Regions from separate parts of the Homo sapiens genome. Here region 1 is linked to region 2. Evidence: fine-mapped expression QTL. Tissue or cell type: whole blood. Region 2 holds a variant in brackets; the other region holds the start of a gene. All regions are shown on one strand. Distances are from middle to middle.

The links. PIP is the estimated chance that this variant, and not a neighbour inherited with it, causes the effect.
Region 1: it holds the start of MOCS2, and the variant in region 2 is fine-mapped to the expression of MOCS2 in whole blood (INTERVAL, PIP 0.91).

What each region holds. Positions count from the first base shown.
Region 1 is chr5:53,105,806-53,113,968 of GRCh38, forward strand. MOCS2 (molybdenum cofactor synthesis 2) reads right to left here and starts at 3,952. Exons shown (of 7, transcript NM_004531.5): 1 at 3,446-3,952; 2 at 2,717-2,838; 3 at 1,272-1,416. The coding sequence starts at 1,369. MOCS2-DT (MOCS2 divergent transcript) reads left to right here and starts at 4,037. Exons shown (of 2, transcript NR_104654.1): 1 at 4,037-4,343; 2 at 8,054-8,163. RefSeq lists a silencer at 3,691-3,980.
Region 2 is chr5:53,247,679-53,255,879 of GRCh38, forward strand. No RefSeq gene overlaps it. Among named protein-coding and RNA genes, the nearest start is that of MOCS2-DT, 140 kb to the left of the region's middle. The variant GTTT/G (reference allele first, on the strand shown) is at 3,490.

The sequences.
Region 1 (8,163 bases), 140 kb before region 2:
AGAAAAATTTTGCAAACTATGCATCTGACAAATGTCTAACATCAGCATCTCTAAGGAATTTTTTAAAATTTATGAGAAAAAACAACCCCAATAAAAGTAGGCAAAGGACATGAACAGGAACTTTTCAAAAGAAGACATACATGTGGCCAACAATCATATGAAAAGAAAGCTCAACATCACTGATTATTAGAGAAATGCAAATCCCAACCACAATGAGATACCATCTCACACCAGTCAGAAGAGCTATTATTAAAATAACAGATGCTGGCGAGGACGTGAAGAAAAAGGAATGCTTATACACTGCTGCAGGGAGTGTAAATTAGTTCAATCATTGTGGAAGACAGGGTGGCCTAGAGACTGAAATACCACTCAACCCAGCAATCCCATTACTGAATATATACCCAGAGAAATATAATCGTTCTGTCATAAAGACACATGCACACGTCTGTTCACTGCAGCACTATTCACAATAGCAAAGACATGGAATCAACCTAAATGCCCATCAGTGGTAGACTGGATAAAGAAAATGTGGTACATATACACCATGGAATACTATGCAGCCATAAGAAAGAACGAGATCAAGTCCTTTGCAGGGACATGGATGGAGCTAGAGGCCATTATCCTTAGCCAACTAATGCGGGAACAGAAAACCAAATACCAAACGTTCTCACTTACAAGTGGGAGATAAATATTGAGTACACATGGACACAAAGAAGGAAACCATAGACACTGGAGCCTACTTGAGGGTGGAGGGTGGGAGGAGGGAGAAGATTGAAAAAATAACTGATGGGCACTAGACTTAATACCTGGGTGACAAAATTATCTGTACAAGAAACCGCCATGATACAAGTTCCCCTGAACTTAAAAGTTAAATAAATTCTTTTTAATTTGGCTCTTTCACTTATTAGCTATGTGATTAGCTATGTGATCAAAGGCAAGTTTTTTAAGTCTTCTGAATTTGTTTTTTTACCTGCAAAATATGGATATTAATATGTCACTGTGCCTGACACATAAGATCTCAATAAACCATGTTAAATGAAACATATCAAACTGATATGTTTATTGTAATTAAACTGCTTACAATAGACTTGATGCAGAAATGGTGCTAGATATTCATAAATCTGTTGGCACCAATGAAGAGTTGCTGCATCAATAAAGATTTGGTACAGACAGACTTACAAAGAATATACATTAACAGCAAACCACATACACTTTATCATCTGTATGATCCTTCCCCACACGACTGATTAAGAAAAACAAATCTCACATACCTAGATGGCTCAAAAGCACTATCCTCCACTAATGGGGGGGATAACGGCAATTTCGTCTCCAGGCTGAAGCACGAGGAGCTGATCTCCAAGCTCGACATATTCTTGACGAACAGCAAATATTATCTGATTTCTAACATCAGCCAATCTAAAGGGGAAAAAATATGACTCAAAGTATCAACGCTATGATAGACCTCAAATCGCTTCAGCTGCAATTAGAGATATTACATAGATATAATTATATAAAGCATCACCTGCAAAATTACCAATTAAATTTACACATAGTATATGGAGAAAGGACATATCCACTGAAGAACATACTTATACACCACAAAGATACGTTAAACTGCTGTCAACTCTTTATTGGATGTTGTATGCCTTGGGGAATTAAACAACAAAAAAATGCACAAAAAACCCACCAGACTGGAGGCAACACTCAAACCAGGTCAAAAGAAAAGTTTCCAATCAGTACATGGCCTTTCCAGGGTCCTTCTATCCATGTGTTCAAGCACAAGTATAACTGCCCACAAACTATGCCTGTACACATTATCCTACTCGAATATGGATTAAGTTGCTTAGAAAGATGAAAAAGATAGCATAGGTCATAAAGCCACCTGCAACACAGCTTTATTAGCTGTTCCTTTATACCTGAACAATGGTAAGCTTTCTTTTCAGGCACAGTGAAAACGTATACAAGACCTGCTGTCTCCCTCCAGGTAAAGCAGAATGGGAGACCCCACTGTGTTTTATTGATTATCAGGCCACTGTAAGAGCAACTTAAAAGATACGAAATCATGAAGTGGTTTGCTTTTAAACACTTATTATGGAGTATCTTTTACACAGAACTAGGACTTCCAGGTTAAACACCTATACAAGCTAAGTAACACCATTAATATTCCTGAATCACCCTCAAATAAGTCACTTTTATATTTTGTTCCAAAAAGAACTTGAAGTGGGAATGACATAAGTAAAATTATAGGTTTTTCAAGAACCAGAAAAAAAATTAAATATTACAAAAACTCAAATTCAGCAGCATCTAGGATTTGTTGTAACTCATTTTTCTTTCAATCTTAGAAATTTCTATGTTGAGCTCTCTAAAGAGAGGGGCAGAACAAAATGTTTAAAGCACACATTTTTAACAGAATTTGTAACAATTTCATTTAATGTTATAAAATTGCAGAAGTGACATGTGCAGTGTTTTGTAAATTATCAAAGAGAATATAATCATGTCCCTCTGCGGTTCACTGTGTTTTGGGGTAAAATATCTTTAACCTTTCTTAAAATACGGTGCACATTTAGAGTTTTTCAGGTGTTCCAAAAAAAATACAACTAACGATTCTTTTTGACATTAAGCACGGAAATCGAAATTAACCTTTTTACTTTTATCATTTATGTATTTTGAAAATATCTAAGTGTTACTCATATGCATTCTACAAATTTTTAACTACCCAGGATGTCGAGTTTCTATCTCCTTCCACAGCTGCAACGCTTTTATTTCTTGAGGCACAGAAATGGTCTCTGAACGAACTCCTGTTATTTCAGCACTTTTTGCAAAATACAATACTTCAACCTGAAAGTAAAGAAAATGCTTTTAATAACAACTCATACTCGTTTTCTGACTGTCAATGTTGAGCAGTTTTCTCATTTTCCAAATGTATTGCTTTAATCAAAGACAAATTTTATAAAGAAAATTAAATAACCCGTAAAAAATTTCAGTATACCTACAAGTTCAAATTCTGAAAACTTGTTGTTTTAAATACAATTCAGACTAATTTCTGGATGCCTTTTAGTTTTACAAACTTAAGTGTGCCATCATTAAAATCCTAAGTATTTATCTTCTAGGAAAACATGTTAAGCCTGCCTTAATTGACATAAAAGTATAGCACCTTTTATAAATATGTAAGCAAAGAACAAATGTTTGAGTCAAGAGATGAGTTACACAAATAAAATAAATGAATAAATAAGCGAAAAACCTGTTTCTCACGGTTGTCAAATGACCTTAGATTCCGGTCTGTATAACATCGTCCCCAGACGCTAAGGATTAAGTTATGCAACATAGTAAATCTGACATTTACAGAAGCAAGTAGGTTTGAAACACACGACAGACTGGAATTTGCTAGAACAAACTTGTGCCAGCAGCCTGGTATGTAAGGGATCCGACGAAGTAAAATAGGCACCTGTCACTCCGTGCAAACAACTCTTTACGAAATAATTACAGGTTTGCAAATGATCAAGGGTGTAGAAATCCACAGATGAAGCACAGTTCTTCACAAGAATTCTCCATGAGGTGCATTTCTTTTTAGATTAAAATTTTAGCTTCATCAAAACGAATAATCTGGGAAAGAGGTGGTCATAAAAGGTGGAGGCGCCTTCAGAACGAGTCCGTCCTTGCTGCCGTGAGCTGACAAGAGTTCTCGGAGAGGACCCGACTTCTGCTGGGGCAGTCGCAGTAAAGCCCGGAGACAGGAAGGGCCCGGGGGCGGGGGCGGGGGCGCCCCCGAACCCAAGACGCCGGCCAGGTTGGGGGCTAGTGGGGAGGTCCGACTGACCAAGGCTGGGTATGTGGAGGGAAAGGGCGGGAGAGACACGTCGAGGAGGGCTCCGCACCCAGGCCCGCACGCACACCCGCCACCCTTACCTGGCACAGCGGCACCATCCCGCCTAGGACAGCGGGACCGAATCACGGCCGCAAAGGCGCAGGCGCGGGCTCACCCGGAGCGCAGGCGTAACCCGACGGCGCTCAGCCCCCGCCTGCGCCTGCACGGAGCATGCGCACAACCAGCTCCGCCCCGCGCCGGGCTCTAGCTGTTTCCCTCAGGCGGCCTGTTCCACGCCAGGATTAGTTTTGCTTCGCAGATGGGCCGTGGTGGTGAGAGGAAGCAATCAGTATGGAAATGGAGAAATGGCTTACCATGCATGTCCTTCTCCCCAGGAGGGAGGTCGTGGTGCAGGCGAGCAGACGCCAGACTCCTGGACACTTGCCGCCTGCGTTATGGAGGCTTAGCTAATAACCTTGCAGGGGTCTTCAGGCTTTTCCACTGGCTCACCTTTAGGCTTCTGACACTTTTACCTACGGTATGTGAACCTCGAAAATTTGAGACAGGTCTCAGTTAACTTAGAAAGTTTATTTTGCCAACGTTGAGGACATGCCCGTGACACAGCCTCAGGAAGTCCTGAGGACATGTGCCCAAGGTGGTCAGGGCACAGCTTGGTTTTATACATTTTGGGGAGACAGGAGACATCAATCAATATGTAAAAAGTACATTAGTTCCTTCCAGAAAGGCGGAGACCGTTAAAAGCAAGCCCCGCCCCCCCCAACTGGGGGCTTCCAGGTAGGTAATAGACAGTAGCATTCTTTTGAGTTTCTGATAAGTCTTTCTAAAGGAGGCAATCAGAATATGCATCTATTCTTTGTCAGCAAAAGAGGTGACTTGGATAGAATAGGAGGCAGATTTGCCCTGAGTAATTCCCAGTTTGAAGGGGCCCAAGATTTTTTTCTTTCCCAGGTATATGATTAGTGTTTCTTAAAGACAGAATATCCGCCTGGTCAGAACATTCGAACTGTATGACTTTTCCTGTTTATTGGCTGCTCGGTAATTGTATACTGTCCGTCCAACTTTCCCAATTCTTGCCAACAAGAACTCTTGGCTTTAAATTGCTTGCGTCGTTAAGTGGATGTAAGTTACACGTCCCTTTCCTTGGAGCTCACAGTCCTGGGTAGGAGAGTTTTAAATATGAATGATAATTCCCTGTAATACTAAGGATCTGTGTTACATTTCAAGGGTGGAAGGGGAAAGTGGTTGTGTCACCTGGGGAGTGAGAAGATGCTGAGAAGGTAAATCTGCTAGAATGGTGGCAGTAAATGACAAGAGTGGGAGTAGAGCACGAAGAAATTTCACTTGCCTCTGACAAGCCACAGGGATATGAAGAAGCATAATAAGTTCACAGAAGGGCAAGTAGTTGGCAAGGCAGGTGTGCCTCCAGCAAAGGAGGTGATGAGAAGTGAGGCTGGAGAGTCCTTGGTAGGAAAAATTGACAAGGAGCAATGAATACCAATGTGTATCCTGGTAAAGTTGCTAAACATAAAGGATAAAGACTATATTCACACCCAGGCATAAAAACAAGGGAATGACAATAGTGGCCTTAGACTCCTCAGTGGCATCTGATGGCAATGTGCAGTGTGTAAAAAAGGCTGAGAACAAAAGCATGATCCCATAATATTACAGCCAAACTGGTGGGGCAGGATTCTCCTAAATCAGCAAAAACTCAAAAAACACAATACCCAAGAACCCTTCTTAAAAATCTTTCTTGGGCAAAAAGTCCACTCAATCAAGAGTAATCAAAGTAAATAACTCAGCAATAAAGGTATTAATATGGGAAAAATGAAAAACTAAAAAAACTGGCATTGAGATTTTAACCCATTCAAACGTAAAACTAAGATATCAATTATGGGATATGATTATAAAATAAAATGTAAATGACATCAGAATATTAAAAAAAAATGGAAACTGTCCAAAGTGGGAACATATAGTTACAAAATATCAATTCAGGTTTCTTAATATTTTTCATAATCTTCTTTATTTTAGAAAATATTTTAGGAGCAACTATCTTTTACAAATAAACAATAATCTGATGATTTATAATCCTATCAGTTTCACCAGTTATTTTGTTGATAAATTCAAGTAAATATAGGTCAATAATATTGCCTTGCTTTCATTTTTTTATTTTCTAATTCCTAATGAGGTGAATCTTTTCATATTTTCATTGAGCACTTATACTTCTCTGTGAAGTTTCTGTTCACATCGTTTATTCATTATGCTGTAGATATGACACAGTTCTTTTTTTTTTTACAAAATACAGCCCCATCTATAATTTGTGGATATGCAAGCAAAACTGATACCAAAATATTCCAGGCTTATTCCATAGGCTTTGATTTTACTTTTCTTATGAATTCATTAATTAAATCAGTGAATCATCACAATGGTATATAAATTATTTTAGTAATAGCAAAATGACTTTATGAACATTTGCATTTCACTTAAGCTACAATTTTTTGTGAAAACATAGTTGGAGCCACCATTTTCCCAGTTATTTTTACCATAAGGAATCCTATTTGGTTAAGAAAAAAAACAAGTTGAGGCAAAAACATTTCCATTTTGTTTTCAGATTGAAAAAAGACGAGATTCCATGAGACTAGAAATGTAGGAGCATCTCAGACCTTCACAGAACGCTCTGTTAGAAGATGAGAAACATAACGTTGCTTGTGAGAGGTGAAGCCAGCTGGACTTCCTGGGTCGAGTGGGGACTTGGAGAACTTTTCTGTCTAGCTAAAGGATTATAAGTGCACCAATCAGCACTCTGTAAAAACACACCAGTCAGCGCTCTGTGTCTAGCTAAAGGATTGTAAATGCACCAATCAGCACTCTGTAAAATGGACCAATCAGTACCCTGTAAAATGGACCAATCAGCAGGACGTGGGCAGGGACAAATAAGGGAATAACAGCTGGCGCCCCTAGCCAGCAGTGGCAACCCACTCGGATCACCTTCCATGCTGTGGAAGCTTTGTTATTTCACTTTTCACAATAAATCTTAGGGTTGCTTACTTTTTGGGTCCATGCCACCTTGAAGAGCTGTAACACTCACCACGAAGGTCTGAGGCTTCATTCTTGAAGTCAGACTAAGAACCCACCGGAAGGAACCAATTCCAGACACACGTGTAGTAGCAAATTATCAAAAATGTTCATTGCCTTTTCTGAAAAACAATTTTCCCAGAAACACCTGGCAGAATCAGAGTTCATTGTGTCAAAAGAAAAACTTTGGACAAATTAAAATGAGCAAAGAACAATTTGTGAAATGTGCCCCTCTCCCAACCAGAACAGGTTCAAAGAGACTCCAGTGCTGCCACATGATCAAAGAATTATGGACAAAAAAAGCAAATAAATTACAGGAAAAGAAAATGAGGTACAGAAACAGCTGGATTGGTTACAGCTTGGTGTTTACCTTACTTGAACAAGGTTCGAACAGTTGGCTGCCTTTGATGGGCTGCAACACAGTGATTGGTATAAGAGTAGGTTACAGCCTGTTTACACATGCAGTTAGGTTACAATTCACTGTGTGTTGAGAAACCTTTAGGCCAAACTTAAAATTTGTAAGGAGGCAGCTTTAGGCTTAACTTGATTTAAAAGTTATTAGATGTTCCATCAGTCGTTTCGCCAATAGGTAATAGGTTTTTTTGGTTTTGTTTTCTGTGCTATTAAAATAGTATATAAAACTTGTCATCATTGATTCTGATTTATCATGTTACAGTTCAGTCTCTAATTGAACTGAGCCTATTTTTTTCCGTAAAATCCAACCTATTCATCCATTTATACAGATTTTTTAAAATCTAAATATTTTATATCAAATTGCTAAAAATGTTTAGTCACATTCTTTTTCTATTGCTGCCCATATATTTTCTGCCATCATTTTCAGCTGCTAAATAGTATCTAGTCCTAGATATCTGGTTACCCATTATCAGGAACTCTTCGTGAAATGCTTTAGTGACCTTGTTTAAGTCAGTAATAAAGTTGAGATTTATAATCATATTCTATTACCAAAAAAAATACAGGTAATAGATTTTCAAATGTCAGCCCATGTCTACTCCTTTATTTCCCAGTGTGGCAGAATTTTTGAACAGTGAAAATATTTCTGTCTGAGGAAGTTTGGACTATGTGGTGTGAGATCCGTAGACATTGGACTAATGTCATTAACATATTTTAATATTTAAATTTCTTATTAAAAAATAGATAATGCAGTAGTTACTTTTTGAAGGACGACCGAAGCAGGATATTTCCCTGACCCCTTCATGGGACCCACGTCAGAGGTGTTTACTCAGCCTGCTGCCCACAACTCCTCA
Region 2 (8,201 bases):
CTTCCAAAAGCATGGCATAAATAAATATTCACAGCAAGTTTGTCCTTTAAAATTTATCATCAACAAAGAAGAAAGTGAGCTGGAATAGAAGACACGAGCCCAGGTATCTGTCTTTGGCTCTGCTACCAGCTGTTTGCATTTATCTGAGAAAGTAATTGAGTTTCCAAGACTTTGATTTCCTTATCTATAAAATTAAAAGCAACAATTGAATTTGTTTAAAGATTTTTTGAAACACTTAAATCAGTCGATTACTGACCTTGGTGAAAACTGTTAGGGTCATCTAGTTGTTTTAACAAAACATCCCAAATTCAGAGGCTTACCACAAGAGTTTATTCTGTGATCATTATGTGACCAAATCCAGTGAGCCTGCTCCCGGAAGCTTTCTTCCATGTCTACATTGAGGAACTGAGGTTTCTTACATCTTGTGGCTCTTTCATTCCCTACACCTTGGATTCCTCTGCACCTGATCCACAAAAGAAAAAGGACAATCACTTAGTAAAAAACCTTTCATAGAAATGGCACACCTTATGTTTACTCAATTACAGCAGATTATATTATCCCACCTAGCTGCAAAGGGGACAGAGAGATGTAGTTCCTAGCTGTGCTGTCACTTTTCAGTGACAATGCTACATTACGGAAGGTGGAACACAAGTTTCGGCAGACAATCCCACAAACACCATCCTAATTAGAGCCAGTGATTCTGTGTAACCGTGGGAAAAGAAGTAATGGTGTTGGGAAAATTCAGTGAGTACCAGCATACTCGTATGGCTCCTATATTCAAGCAACACCCCATGGCACAGTTGATGGAATAGTTCATTTGCCAGGAAATATTAAGTTTTATTAATAAACTGTGGAAAGTCAGAATTTGAGCTAATATCTGCCCTACTACAGAATCTGACAGGGTCCTATGCTCTGCAGCATTTTATCCATCCAAAAGAGTCCTACCATTTCCAGTAGCAAGGTGCATTGACTCTATTTCCATCTTAAATCTGAAACCATTTCAGCCAGCTCTCTCCAGACTTCTGGCAATTATGTCTTATAAATTTCCCTGCTTAAGACTGGCTACATAATCTGTTGGTCCCAGTGAAAAATGAAAACCCAAGGCGCCTTGGTCAAAAAACAGGAAAAAGTTGCCATTAAAAGTACTAAAATATCAAGCTTTTTCCTTTCTTCTAGTGATCCCTCTCTGTCATGTTTTTTATTTGCTATCTAATGCCATCCTAAGTCAAGAAAAATTAAAATTTTAAGTTAATAACATAAATTTTACCGTTCACCTTCATATTGTGCCATGCCAATTTTAAATGTAAATATAAGAGCATTTAACTGGTAGGAGATCTCCAAAATTTCCCAGTTCATATTTACTGGCTCAACCCTGCAGGCCCTCTGAGCTGACCAGAAAGGGAAAATGCATATCAAACTCAGGAAGGTTGGAAGCAAGAAGAGAGAACTCCCCAAAACACAGAACCAATCCCTGGAGCAGTCCAAGCCACAGGTATACTTGCCAGAGAGAGTAGACGTCCTCCACCCTACTTCCACCCCTCACTACAAAGCCCTGGCTGGGGACCCAGTCCAGAGACATGGGGCATGTAGTGTGCTATCTCAGGTCCCACCAGCCACCCTTGGAGAAGTCGAGTTAGGCATCTCCCCTTCCCACTGGCCCAGCTCAGGGCAGACAGGTGAGTCCAAGAATCTTTAAACCTTTCCACCCAGAATCGCTCAGTCCCTAGATCAGGGTAGGCAATAGGCTGAATGCATGAGGTTCACCAGTGCTGGAAAGGCTGCCACCGGAGCTGCCTCCAGTTGCCACCAGCCTCCCACCCTGTCCTCCTGTATGTCCAGCCCAAGCCTCCCCCATTCTCCCACCCCCACTCCATGTCCCATCATATTTCACCTATACAACGCAAATTCAGGAATAAGATTATTAAGAATTTCAGGACTGCAATAGAAAAACATGAGGTCCTTCTGAGCATGGGCCTTGCACAGTCCTGCTGGCCACAAGCCCCATAAAGCCAGCCCGACCTCTACTTCAAATGAATCAGTCTTGAGGAATGATGTGTCTTTCCTCCAGCCAGGATGTAAATAAACCCTGAGACTCCACATGAACAAGCCTTGCCAAGGAGTCTCACTCAAAGAAACAGTCCTGTAAAATAACCATGAGTAATGAAAAATAATTCTATTATTTGCTTGTGTTATGCAAAGAGAATTTAACTCACAACTCAAAGCAATAATTTTTCAACTCCTAGTCTTCTACTTTACAATTCTCTCTCATCCAAGCTTCTCTATAGTCGTTTATTCTTCTCTTCACTTTCCTCTTTGCAGCAAAATATGTTCTCCCTGACACCAACCCCATAAAGCTTTTGCTCTCTTCCTTCCCCTCTACACTCTCCCTCAGCTGTTGTGTAAATCAACTCAGCCACTTGGTTTTCTTTCATTTTTTCCTCTGCCTTGACTGTTACTAAGGTTCTCTGATCCAAAGGGGAGCCCAGAAACTGATGCAAAGGACAACAATCTTTCCCGCTGACAAGAGTGGGAGCAGGGCACAGACTGCACATACACATTCGGCAATGATATGTGTCCTAAGTACATGTTAATAATTTCATCACACATGTTGACTTCATTTATCCCCTAGAATAGCTCTTGATGCTGTAGCCTCTAAACAGCAGCTCTCTCTCAATGACTAGTAAAAGCCACAAGCGCTAAGTTTAAAGAAAACCTGAGGGCAGAGCTCAGCTATGGCACCTGCTAACTATGTGACACTCTTTGGGTCATTTAATCTGAGCCTTTCATTTCCTCTGTGATGTGTATAAACCAGTATTTGGGGGTAACCCTGGAAGCCTAAGGAATTGACTCTTTCTCAGTCCCATATATTAATTTATATATTAATAAGTAATATTAACTGATCTTAAGAAAATGCATTTCAAGGAAAAGAGGGCGGCCTGAATTAAAGAAAAAATGTCTTTTTGGAAGAGACACTGGGTTAGTAATAGTTCATCAAAGCTTTCTGAACTTAAGTAGAATATCTCCAAACACCACTTCCTATTTTCTATTTTCCAGTTACCTATTTGTGACTAATGGTTTGACTCTCAAACTTTCCGATTAATAGTCTGACTCCCAAATACCTTGATTCCAGGAGAGAGGCCATAACTCCCAAGTACACCGATGATAATTGATGTGTCATATTATGAATTAAAATGTTGGCATTCTGAATTCATTTGTCCCTTCACAAAGGGGATACATTGTGAGAAATGTGTTAGGTGATTTCGTGATTGTGTGTACATCATAGAGTGTATTTACACAAATTTCGAATTTACCCCCCAAAATCTTTCTTTAATAATAAGTTTTTAGCTTATTATAACTTTTTTACTTTATAAGCTTTTTAGTTTTTAATTTTTTTGACTCTTTTGTAGTAATACTTGGCTTAAAAATCACGTTGCACAGCTGTACAAAAATATTTTTTCTTTATATCCTTACTCTATAAGCTTTGTTCTA[GTTT/G]TTTTTTTGTTGTTGTTGTTGTTGTTGTTGTTTTTAACTTTTTAAACTTTTTTGTTAAAAACTAAGACACAAGCACATACATTAGCTGAGGCCTACACAGGTTCAGGGTCATCAATATGCCTGTCTTCCACCTCCATATCTTACCTACTCCTGGAAGGTCTTCAGGAGCAATAACACGCATGGAGCTGTCATCTCCTATGACAATGCCTTCTTCTGGATACCTCCTGAAGGACCTGCTTGAGGCTGTTTTACAGTTCACTTTTTTTTCTTTTTTCAATAAGTAGACAAAGTACACTCTAAAATAACAATCAAAAGCATAGTTTAGGCTGGGCATGGTGGATCCCGCCTATAACCCCCTCACTTTGGGAGGCCTAGGCAGGCGAATCACCTGAGGTCAGGACTTCAAGACCAGCCTGGCCAAAAGTGGTGAAACCCCATCTCTACTAAAAATACAAAAATTAGCCAGGCATGGTGGTTTATGCCTGTAACTCCAGCTACTCGGGAGGCTGAGGCAGGAGAATCGCTTGAACCTGGGAGGCAGAGGTTGCAGTGAGCTGAGATTGTGCCACTGCACTGCAGTCTGGGTGACAGAGCCAGATTCTGTCTCAAAAAAAAAAAAAAAACATAGTTTAGTAAATACATAAACCAGTAATATAGTTATTATCATTATCAAGTATTATGTACTGTACATTACTGTATGTGTTATAGTTTTATAGGACGGGCAGCACAGTAGGTTTGTTTACACCAGCATCATCACAAACACGTGGGTAATGCATTGCACTACGACATTAGAAAAATGGCTAGGACATCACTGGGTGATAGGAATTTTTCAGCTTCATTATAATCTTGTAGGACCACCTTCGTATATGTGCCCTGTCATTGACCAAAAGGTCATGTGGCACATGACTTTATATCGGTCTTGTGTGAATTTAGGTAGTGTGAGACCATTGCTGAAATCCTGATCATTTCAGAGTATATACAATTCTATAGGTTATTAAGTTGATAAACCAAGTATAAACCTGAAATGTAGTGACCCATTAATCAATATTTCTAACTGAACTCCACCTGATACCTTAGCAATATGCAAACCTAGATGACTAAAAGCTAACTACTAGGTTGCTGTAAAAATTAAGGAGATAATGCATGTGAAAGTCTCAAGAACAAAGTCTGACATATACAGTTGCTTCAAGTTTTTATATAATAGATTTTCTTATTTACCCAATTTACATTTGTTTGAATGTGTGATCATTAAGACTACAAGGATCATTTGTGTTTAATTTCTGCTTCTAGAGGAAGAAAAAATACTCTGTGTCTTATGCTCTAACAATGGATATGGAATCTTGTCTAAGGTTTTGATCATGTTAAGAGAAAAAAATAAAATTTCAGAACTTCTGCTAGTTTTTTGGCATATGTTTTGTTTTAGGTTAGCAAATATTCTTAAACATTTTTTGCTGTAAAATGGTAGTCACCCACATTAAAAAGTCTTTTATCTTAAAACATGCTCAACAATATGCCTGGTTAAGAGTAGGGTACAGAAAGCAAAATTACATTGCATAAAAAATTAATGAGAATTTTGGGGCTGGAGTCTAGCAGGTAGACTGGGACCAGGGACAAGAAGATGAAGGCAAGGCAAAACTTAAGGAGGGCATATAGATGGCAAAAATGTGGGAGGACAGAAAATTGTTAATGAATGTTAGAGCATGGTGATTAACATTCTATTTCGCATTTTGTCTCTTCAGTGACACCCTGTAATCTCTCCATTACTGTCTCAGTTTGGGCTGCTGTAACCAATTACCACAGTGGCTCAAATGAGTTGGTGGCTCAAACAACAACTTATTTCTCATGGTTCTGGAGGCTGAAAGTACAAATTAGGGTGCCAGATGGTTGGGATTTTGGTGAAGGCCTTTTTCCTGGTTATGTCTTCAAGTGGTCTTTCCTTGGTGCTTACAAGCAGAGAAGAAGTGAGCTCTCTCCTGTCTCTTCTTATAAGGACACTACTAACCCCAGCATGAGAGCCCCACCTTCATGACCTATTACCTCCCAAAGGCCCCACTTTCAAAAACCATCACATTGGAGATTAGGGTTTTCAATATATAAGTTTGGGGGAGATAGAAACATTCAATCCAAAGCAATTATCCTCAAAGTAAAAGTCTGCTACACACCCAGGCTTGTGTCATTGGCACTTTGGAGAGTTGAAATAATCAAGGCAGTGAGCGTCCAGAAGGAAGCAAACTGGTGTGAAGAAGGGAGAGAACAGCAGTCACACAAGCCAAGATTCACAGCAGAGACAGGGAGTAATGAGAAGAAACAACCACCTCATGAAGATTTTGGAGATAAGGAATGTGGTAAAGAATGTTCATTTCTTGGTTGGCATTGAGGCTGGAGAGGGTGACCTCAGTCATCTGAAAAAATTGTAAACATTCAGGCAGCTGATTATTAGGTTCCCACTTGTGGGGCTCAGCATCCCAGAATGTACAGTGCCTGTTTATCTATCACGGTGATGGTGACAATGATGAAGGTAGCAGAGCCACAGCTGTGTGCTCCACCCTCTGGGCATCTTGGTTCTAAAAAAACCACAAACATGTACACACTTATCTATGGTTCTAAAAAAACCACAAACATGCACACGCTTATCTATGAAACTGAGACAGATGCTCCTGGCCTATTCAAATAAACACATACTTTAATCAGTCATCTTTCTGATATGCAAAACTGTAAGAGTTATTCATGTTACTTTATTTTCCAACAATTTACCCTTGCAGACATGCTCTGGTGTTAGATAACAATGTTCTGTAGGATTTATCTATGTTGAATGTTTAGAAATTTTTTTTCAATATATTTCTCTCCTCAAAACTTTATCTCTGCAAACACCTCACTTAACTTGGACCTGCAAATATTGATTTAGCATTTGATGATGCCTAAACTGAATACCTCAATGTGTGTTAGGCAAACTGAATAGTTCAATGTGTCTGACTTTATCTCTTTTCTCCTGTCTAAGTCTCTAGGTTTGAAATATCTCCTTCACCATTTTTATTATATTGAATTATTACCAAGGAAGGCTCTGCCTTTCCTTCTCAGCTAGCCGTTCTTTCAGAATCCAATCTACCCTTATTTTATCAAACATAATTCTAGATGTGTAGACAACAGCTAAGGTGAAAACTCGATCTTCTTAAAATAGTTGAAAACAAAATAAAAGGCAATGTTACTCTTCCTTCGTAAGTGTCATAGAAGTCCTTCCTTTTGGGTTTGCTGCTTTTTTTCCCCCTTTTTCTTTCCTTTTCTTTCTTTCTTTCTTTTTTTTTTTCTTTTTTGGAAGGAATAAAGAACAAGGAGACTGAACTTTTAAAAAGGGATCATTGGGTGATATTGGGCAAAATGAAAAGGAAACTCCTATGATAAAAGATTTTTGAGAATTGCCTGCGTAATACACTAAAACATTCTTTAAAGATGATATATATGCCTGCATCTTCAAAAAGCATCTTAGAGAAGAATGGAAACTTTCGGTATTCCAAAGCTCAACTTTGACATTTTTATTATTTCCTTTAAAAAATCCATCCACTTGATGAAAAGACAGAGGGCCATTGTTGTTAACTTACCAAAGAAACTTACTAGAATACAAAATATGGATTACTGTATTACAGCATATATAGTAATTTTATTTTTAGTTTCTCATTATCTTCATCCCTACCTGTCCTAAAGTTCTGTCGCCAAGTATGGATCTCTACCAGCACCAAATCTCAACCTTTTTTTTTTAACCCCTAGCACTTCCCCATCAATAATCCAGTCACCTGAGGCAATTAAAATAGGCTTATTTTATTACCAACTCAATCCACTGACAACTCAAAGCAAAACAATTAATGAACAAATGTCTGCATGTCCCCAGTTGAATTACTTGTGTGCACATTTACACACACACACACACACACACACACACACACTTCTTTGCATCATATTCTTTCCCCACTACCCAATACAAAAGCTTGGTCTATGGGACAGGTGATGGGAAGTAAGAAGAGTTTGTGACAAATTAGAAGTCAAGTTAGTCAACAAATCATAATCTCTGTCTTTTCCTGTTATAGGCTTTGCTGGATTAACCTAATCAGTACAAACTAATACAACTTTGCATTGTCTTGGCAAGATGGAAACAGTTATAAAGTATAAATTTCTACTAAAATTCTCACTAAAATAACACATCCTAAATTAAAACATTTGACCTCCCACAAGCACAGATAGATACATCTTCCTCTGGGATTCATAACATGGTGCTTGCTATATACTTGTTGCCATTTTCTTTCTGTGTTTTAAAAAAATTATTACATTGTATGACATATTATTGTATTGTTCATGGAATGTGTTTTTCTCAAACAAGTTACTGAGGCAGGACCAGCTGCATCATCTGCAAGGACCGGTGAAGATGAAAATACAGGGCCCCTTGTTCAAAAATCTAAGAATTTCAAGACAGTAACATCCGAGCATTAAGCCAAGCATCAGACCCCCTAAGCAAGGGACTCTGTGTGACTGCACAGGTTGCATGCCCATGAAGCCAGCCCTGCTTGGAGGGCAACTATCTATTTCTTATTCATATTTGTAATCCCAGAGAGTGTTGCACACAGAATCTGAGAGTAGGCCCTTAGTCAATGAATGTTGAACCAATAAACAATTTTCCAATATGCTACAGAGAAAAGTAGAATTCATTTGATATGCAAAAT